Linked DNA regions of Homo sapiens. The protein of the gene in region 2 interacts with the protein of the main gene of each other region in a pairwise test. Each region holds a gene or a part of one and is shown on either strand. Other genes may lie near its edges.

Evidence for each region.
Region 1: the proteins of MS4A12 (region 2) and FAM3A interact in a two-hybrid assay, tested with the Homo sapiens proteins (one large-scale study listed by BioGRID).

The regions. Positions count from the first base shown.
Region 1 is NC_000023.11:154,509,588-154,513,405, forward strand, and holds part of FAM3A (protein FAM3A isoform 1 precursor), read right to left. Parts: intron 3,350-3,818; coding exon 3,236-3,349; intron 2,825-3,235; coding exon of another isoform or gene 2,727-2,824; intron 2,285-2,726; coding exon 2,261-2,284; intron 1-2,260. UniProt on the Homo sapiens protein: May act as a defensin against invading fungal microorganisms.
Region 2 is NC_000011.10:60,495,718-60,499,535, reverse strand, and holds part of MS4A12 (membrane-spanning 4-domains subfamily A member 12), read right to left. Parts: intron 2,224-3,818; 5' UTR 2,218-2,223; coding exon 1,942-2,217; intron 1-1,941. UniProt on the Homo sapiens protein: May be involved in signal transduction as a component of a multimeric receptor complex.

The DNA.
Region 1 (3,818 bases), on a different chromosome or scaffold from region 2:
TAAAGACAACAGATTCATTTGGCTCATGGTTCTGGAGGCTGGGAAGTCCAAAAGCATGGCGCCGGCATCTGGTGAGGGTCATCCCGTGGCAGAAAGGTGGAAGGTGGAAGCAAGCATATGAGACGCAGGAAAAAAGGGGGCTGAACTTCAAGGTAACTAACTCACCCATAATAGTGGCATTCATCCATTCATGAGGGCAGAGCCCTCATGACGTAACTACCTCAAAAAGGCCCTCCTCTCAATACCAATACATTGACAAATTTCAACATGAGTTTTAGAGATGACATTTAAACCATATCAAGGCTATAGAAGTTTGAGGTACATGTTAGAAAAGGTCTGGATTGCCTTTAAGAGACTGTTGGTAGGAGTATGGATGTTAAAGGTAATTCTGGTGAGAGGAGGGGAGAGCAATAGAGACAGCCTCTGTGGTCTTAGAGAATACAAATATCATCAAGAACAGAACGTTGCTAGAAACATGAATGTTAAAGGTGCTTTTGGGTTGGGTGTGGTGATTCACGCATGTGATCCCAGCACCTTGGGAGGCCAAGGCAGGAGCATCACTTGAGGCCAGGTGATCAAGACCAGCCTGGGCAACATAGTGAGACCCCGTCTCTACAAAAAATACAAAATAAGCTGGGTGTGGTGGTACATGCCTGTAATCCCAGCTACTCAGGAGGCTGAGGCAGGAGAATCACTTGAGCTATGATTGCGCCACTGCCCTCCAGCCTGGGTGAGAGAGCAAGACCCTGTCTCAATACATTCAAAAAATAAATAATAAAAAATAAAACATTAGCTGGGTGTGGTGGCACATGCCTGTAGTCGCAGCTACTTGGGAGACTGAGGTGAGAGGATCGCTTGAGCCCAGGAGTTTGAGCTTACAGTGCACGGGGATGATACCACTGAACTCCAGCCTGAGCAACAGAGTAAGACCTCTGTCTCTACCAAAAAAAAAAAAAAAAAAAAAAGGTGCTTTTGGTTAAGCCTCAGAGGAAAATGAGGGACATGTTATTGAGTTATTGGGCGCTGGAGGAAAGCTGATCCTTGTTATAAAGGAACTTGGCCCAGGTGTGGTGGCTCACGCCTATAATCCCAGCACTTTGCGGGGCCAAGGCGGGAGGATCACTTGAGGTCAGGAATTCGAGACCAGCCTGACCAACACGGTGAAACCCCATCTCTACTAAATATGAAAATTAGTTGGGTATGGTGGCAGGTGCCTGTAATCCCAGCTAATCAGGAGGCTGAGGTGGGAGAATCGCTTGAACCCGGGAGGCGGAGGTTGCAGTGAGCCAAGATGGCTCCACTGCACTCCAGCCTGGGTGACAGAGCAAGACTCCGTCTCAAAAAAAAAAAAAAACTTGGTTGAATTGTGTTCTAGTGTTTTGTCGAAAGGAGAATGTGTAAGTGCTGGGTGCTGAACTTGGATATTCAGCTGAGGAGATTTCCAAGCAGTGTTGAGAGCGTAGCCTGACTTCTCCTTGCTGCTTATAGTAAAATGTGAGAGACATAAGGAAGAAACTGTTGAGCACAAAGGAGCCAGAAAGCGAAGATGTGGAAAATTCTTGGCCTAATCATATTACAAAAACTGCAAAAGTGTCCCCTGGACAGAACAGCAAGGCTGTTCAAGCGTTTGCCCCAGAGCTGAGGTATGTGACTCGTGGGTCCACTCAACCCTTTCAGCAGAAATCTACAATGAAGATGGGGTTATCTAGGAAGCGTCTGTGGGAAAACTCTCTGATTTTATAGCTTGGGCCTCTATAACTTGCAAAAGAGACCAACAAGGCTCTTGAGAATCTGACACCAGCAGAAACACTGCCGGCCTGGAGTGAAGGGGGCAGAGATGAGATAAAGGGAAGGAAGGGTGGCCCCGAAGGTGGGGCTGTCTCGTTTCAGAGCATGGGTCATTCCAGCAGGCCCAGAAGAAAGAATCTCAGGCCACAGAGGATTCCCCTCAGGCCTTGAAACCAAATGAATTTTGCCCTGCTGGGCTTTGGACTTGCTTGGGACGGGTGACCTCTTTTTTCCTTCCAAGTTGCCCTTTTGCAGTGGGAGTATCTATCCTAGGCCTGCCCCACCGTCATATTCTGGCAGGAAGTAACTTGGCAGGAAGTAACTTGTTTTGTAGGTTGACAGTGGCAAGCAGCCCCCGTGGACCACCACAGCTGGTTTGGGGAGGAATAAATGGAAAACCGAAGCCCTACGGGACCGGGGGCAGGCAGGGATGTCACAAAGGGGAGGAGCAGGGAGGTGACAGGGGCCTTACCTGCAGTCACCGAGCTCTCTGGACCTGTGGATACAGAGTGGTTTCTGTTAGTGTGGAGCCTCCCGGGGCCTGCGGCAGGGCAGCCTGGCCCTCCTTACACCGCGAAGTGTAGACACAGGCAGTCAGGCTCAGGGGCCGGGGGCTAAGCCAGGCCGACCTTGGCATGCTTCCTGCTCAAGTGTAAGTCATGTTCAGATGAAAAACTCCCTACTCTAGGAACAGGGGGAAATGGAATTAGAAAAACTACTTAGATGACCTGGCCGGGCATAGTGGCTCATGCCTGTAGCACTTTGGGAGGCTGAGGCGGGTAGATTGCTTGAGCCCAGGAGTTTGAGACCAGCCTGGGCAACATGGTGAAACCCCATCTCTACTAAAAATACAATAATAATAATAATAATAATAATAATAATAATAATAATAAGAAGAAGAAGAAGAAGAAGAAGAAGCCGGGTTTGGTGGTGCGCACCTGTAGTCTCAGCTACTCGGGAGGCTGGGGCACTAGAATCGCTTGAACCCAGGAGGTAGAGGTTGCAGTGAACCGAGATTGCACCACTGCACTCCAGCCTGGGAGACAAAGTGAGACACTGTCTCAAACAAACAAACAAAAAAGTACTCAGGTGACCTATTACCAGTCAACAAGGTGGAGAGTCCCCTCTCCATCTCAGAGCCTGCAGGGAGCAACCGGGGCATCACTCCCCATGTTCAGTGGAAGCTCCCTACCCCTTACTCTGGCCCTACTGACTCCAGTTGGGCATATAATTCTAGTGATCAGGTATTGGCTTTCCTAGATGAAGCAACTGGGTGTTGGGGGAGGCTGCGCCTGATGCCAGGAGACAGACTGGGGACAGCCAAAGGTAGCCTGCCAGGGAGGAGATAGAAAACCCAAGTCAACTCCCAACCCAGAGCCTCAACCACAGGCCCAGGTGGCCACCTTGGTGGCCTCCAGAGAAGGATAAGGCGGGGTCCCACACTCACTGGTGAAGAGTTGCTGGATGCGAGGAAAGCCACTGCCAGGCCCACCCAGGAGGATGCTGACCACGATCCATGTGACACCCACACTGACGACTAGGACCACAATGCGGAGAGGGCCTGGAGGCAGGATAGACACAGGGTGGGGTCACCTCAGATACCAGCGAACCCCAGAATGACCCCATAGCCTTGCATGACTGGATCTCCCCTGCCACTTGGGAAGAAGTGGCTGGAGGACAAGGAGGTGGAGACCTGTTGCCTTCTACCAGGGCTGAAAGGGAGACTTGAGCTCCCTGGCAGGTGGAAGGAGGAAATTGAGTTCAAATCCCAAGGCTGCTGGGTTTGGTTTTCCCTGGCGGGTCTGGGAGGGGGCCTTCCAGAACTCTCTGCTCGAGAAGGGCTCCAGCCCTCTTTCCAAGAACCCCCTCAACTTCCTGCCTCTGAAACCACCAATATATTTGGGCATCCACCTGCCCCTGCTTTCCTCCTGTTCTGAGGGAGAAGGGTCCCTACTCCCTTTTAAGACCAGTCCCGGCCGGGCGCAGTGGCTCACGCCTGTAATCCCAGAACTTTAGGAGGCCGAGGCGGG
Region 2 (3,818 bases):
GAGATGATGGGCCACGTTTAGCCTATCTCACTTAAAGAACTCCTGTATTAGACTTTATATTTGGTTTTTACAACTGTTCTTTAGAGCAGCAATTCAGCCGTCTGGTCACAAACTTCCCATTCTCATCCTTGCTGTCACCTTGATGAGGGGCAGTTAGATCTGGATTTGTACTGGCCCTCATTTCTCCTCCTACAGCCCTGGCTGTACCATCTACTGATCAAAATTGCCTATAGGACAGACTTAAAAATTTGGACATACAATTTGTCTGCATTTTTGGCCACAGAAGCACTTTAAGGTCTGAGTTGACTGGTACAGGTGTGCCAAGTCCTGCCACCTGTGGCCCCTGCACTGTCATGATGCCCAGGGCCTGCTGATGGCATAGAAATAACAAATCTTCAGAGAGAGGAAGTAGCTTCTGCCAACTGGAGATTTTGAAAACAAAACTTCACATTCTTTTAAAGTATTTTTATCACACGCCTCTTCGGTGCCGGGCAGCATGCTTCAGTGGTTCCTCATCCACCCAGTCAAAGCCAAAGCCTTCTGCTCTGCAGGCCTCACCACCTGTGGCCTCTGCCACTCATCTGCCCTCCTGACAACTGCCCCCTCCCTCACTCATTCTGTTCTATTTTATTGGCCTCCTCCCGGTTCTTCAAATACCTCAAAGACATTTTCATCTAAAGACTTTTACACTGGTTGTTTTCTCTTTCCCTAATATCTGCAGGGCTCACTCCTAACTTCAGGTTTTTGCTCAAATGTCATGTTCTAAGGAAAGCCCATTCTGACCACCTTGAAATTGCTGCCTCCTCACTGCCTAGTACTTTTTAGCCCTTTTACACTTCTTTGTTTTGTCTATATCATTCGACACCTTCTAACACACTAAGTACTTTACTTCCTTATTATGTATACAGTCTGATTTCCCCCTCTAGGGCGTAAGTTCTGTGAGGGCAGAGATTGCACCTCCTTTGTGCTTAATGATATTCCAAGCACCTGTGTGGGGCTGGCTGTATGGGGTGTTAGTTTGTCCCATTGGCTTATTAGGAGCAGGGAATTTCCTCTATCTGGGAGGAGGAGGATCAGAAGGGCCACCTCCACAGCTTAGTAAATAGGCTGCTGCAGGAGAACTTATGCTCATTTTTACTTCCCTAAAACATCACAACTTGAAATACATAGTAAGATGGCTAGAAGAGTTTCTGGCACATAATGAGCATTCATTTACGGAATGCTCCAGCAGAGCATTTTGAGCTATTCACAGGGAGAGACTTAATATAATTTGGTGGAATTGTGCTAGCGGGATGAATGATGTATTTGGAAAGCACGGAGAAGGGACTAACAATTCTACCTAGGCAGGTGGAATTTTCTTACAAGTAGGGCATTTTTGTTTTTACAATGCCTACAGAAACAAGGCAGTCAGTTCAGAGTCTCCTTTGTAGAAGTAAGGTGACAGTTAAACTGTAGCATCTCTAAGGGTATTGGTGAAAGAGGCATAGCAGATGGAATGTCCCCCAATTCTTTCACACTCAGCCTTTCCCAGACTGCCCATTTGTAGTTTCCTTTTCTGGGGGCAGCCATCATTGTTCATTGTTATGTAAATTCACCTTTATGCAAAAACCAGACTTGTAACTAATCCAGAGATGGGATTGAGATTGTCCAAAAAGTCCTTTGAAGAAATGAGATCAAGCTAGATGTAACAGTGCTTCTGTCACGTCAATATTACCAAATTCTCCAGCTAGGGAGGCTCCTCTGTGTCTTGTTATATTTTTGCTTGATCTAAAATGAAATGAACTCAAGGGAAAGTCTATAGGCAGACTAAATATTTCTGTCTAAAAGAGATAATTTCAGAATAACGTTCAGAACTTTTTAGCAATTGGATGATACTCTCCTATAACTTATAAGAAGACCTTGCAAATGTGAAATTAAAATTCTGGTAGTAAATAGACTTACCCCTAGTGCCTTTGCTTCTTCTTTAAAGTTCATTACTGCTGTTCCCACACTTGGATTTATCATTTGTATATTTCCTTGACCCGGTTGACTGCTAGCAAAGATTCCCGGAGATGTGATGCCGTAGGGCTGAGCACGCTGAGCACCCTGAGCTTGGTTTTCTAAGTTGATTGAACCCAGAGGCTGTTGAAATCCAGGAGCCATAAAGCTGCTTGGTGGGTAAGGGTTGGGTATGGTTTCATTTACTTCAGCATGGCTTGTTGGCTTGGATGACATCATTATGTCCTAAGTATCACAAAACATACAAAAGTGATACGTTTATCCAGAAAAGAAACTAAAGAAAATCTTACCAAATGTCAAATGTCAATTATCTATGCAAATGGAGAGAACAAGTGAGCAGATAATGGGCCATAACAACTGATAGAAACATGATTCTCATAAGTCCCCAACCCCCACGCCAAGGACTGGTACCTGTCTGTGGTCTGTTGGAAACCTGGCTGCACTACATGAGGTAAGCAGCAGGCAAGCATTACTGCCTGAGCTCTGCCTCCTATCAGACCAGCATGGCATTGGATTCTCATAGCAGCATGAACCCTACTGTGAACTGCACATGTTGGGGATCTAGGTTGCATGCTCCTTATGAGACTCTAATTCCTGATGACCTGAGGTGGAATAGTTTCATCCTGAAACCATCCCTCATTAGAGAGATGCTATGCTGCCAACTGTGAAGTTGGAGGAAGGCGTCCATGAACCAAGGTGTATGGGTCGCCTCTAGAAGCTGGATGAAACAAGGAAACAGATTCTTCCCTAGAGTCTCCAGGAAGGAACATGACTCTGCTGACACCTTGAACTTAGTCTAGTGAGCTGGTATTGGAATTCTGACCTACAGAACTGTCAGATAAAAAAATTATATTGTTTTAAGCCACTACATTTGTGGTAGTTTGTTATATCAACAAATAGAAAACTAATACAGGGGCCAAGTAATACAATACTTGTATGGCAAGGAGGGCAGTCCAAGATTAAAATTGTTTGCCAGTAATTGGGAAACTAGATAGTTCACATATGCCCACTTAAGATGATTCTTCTGTTCTTTAGGAAAAATGCTTTTATTCATTTCTGTCCTTCTGAAAGCTTAGAGCATCTCAGGCCCCATGTAGGCAAGGGAAATTTTGTTGGAAATAAGCCAGTACAACTGAATATGGACAACAATGACTATTAATTCTTGAAAAAAATTATGACACTTAAAAAATTTGTCTTTAGCCTTAGATTCCTTTTTTTGAGGTCTTCAAAAGCACAACAATTTTCTTGTGCTTATGAATATCAAGAAAGTTAGAGTGATGAATGTCTCATTCTTGGTATGAAGTATGAATACTATGAATAACCTATTGGTACAATGTATCACTGGTATCTAACAAGGACACATATGCAGACCCTGTGCTCATAGAATCCAGAAATTTTAGGGTAGAAAAGACCCTTTCCATTTATCCTGTCTCATTCCCCTTGATTTACAGATGAGAAATTGAAGCTGAGTCGTTAAGTGACATGCTCAAGGTTACACAGAAAACATGTGGCAGAGTTAGGACTTGAAAATGGGATTCTTGGCTGTTGGTTCAGAATCCCCCTCCATGCAGCATCACTCTGGACATTTGCAGCTTGTTTTCCAGGCCAGCCTTGGTGACAGGGTATTGACTCTGCTCCTGCAACTACCCAACAACAAAACTTCTGTCTTCTGATGCCATGGAGAGGAGTTTATAAACCGGATTAACTTCTTTGTGATTGAGTGAGTTAGTAAGGATTCTCTTTAGCAAGCTTTAGGTGAGGTGTATAGAGAGCTAACATTTATTAAAGACTTATTATAGGCACAGTAGGGTCTGTATAGT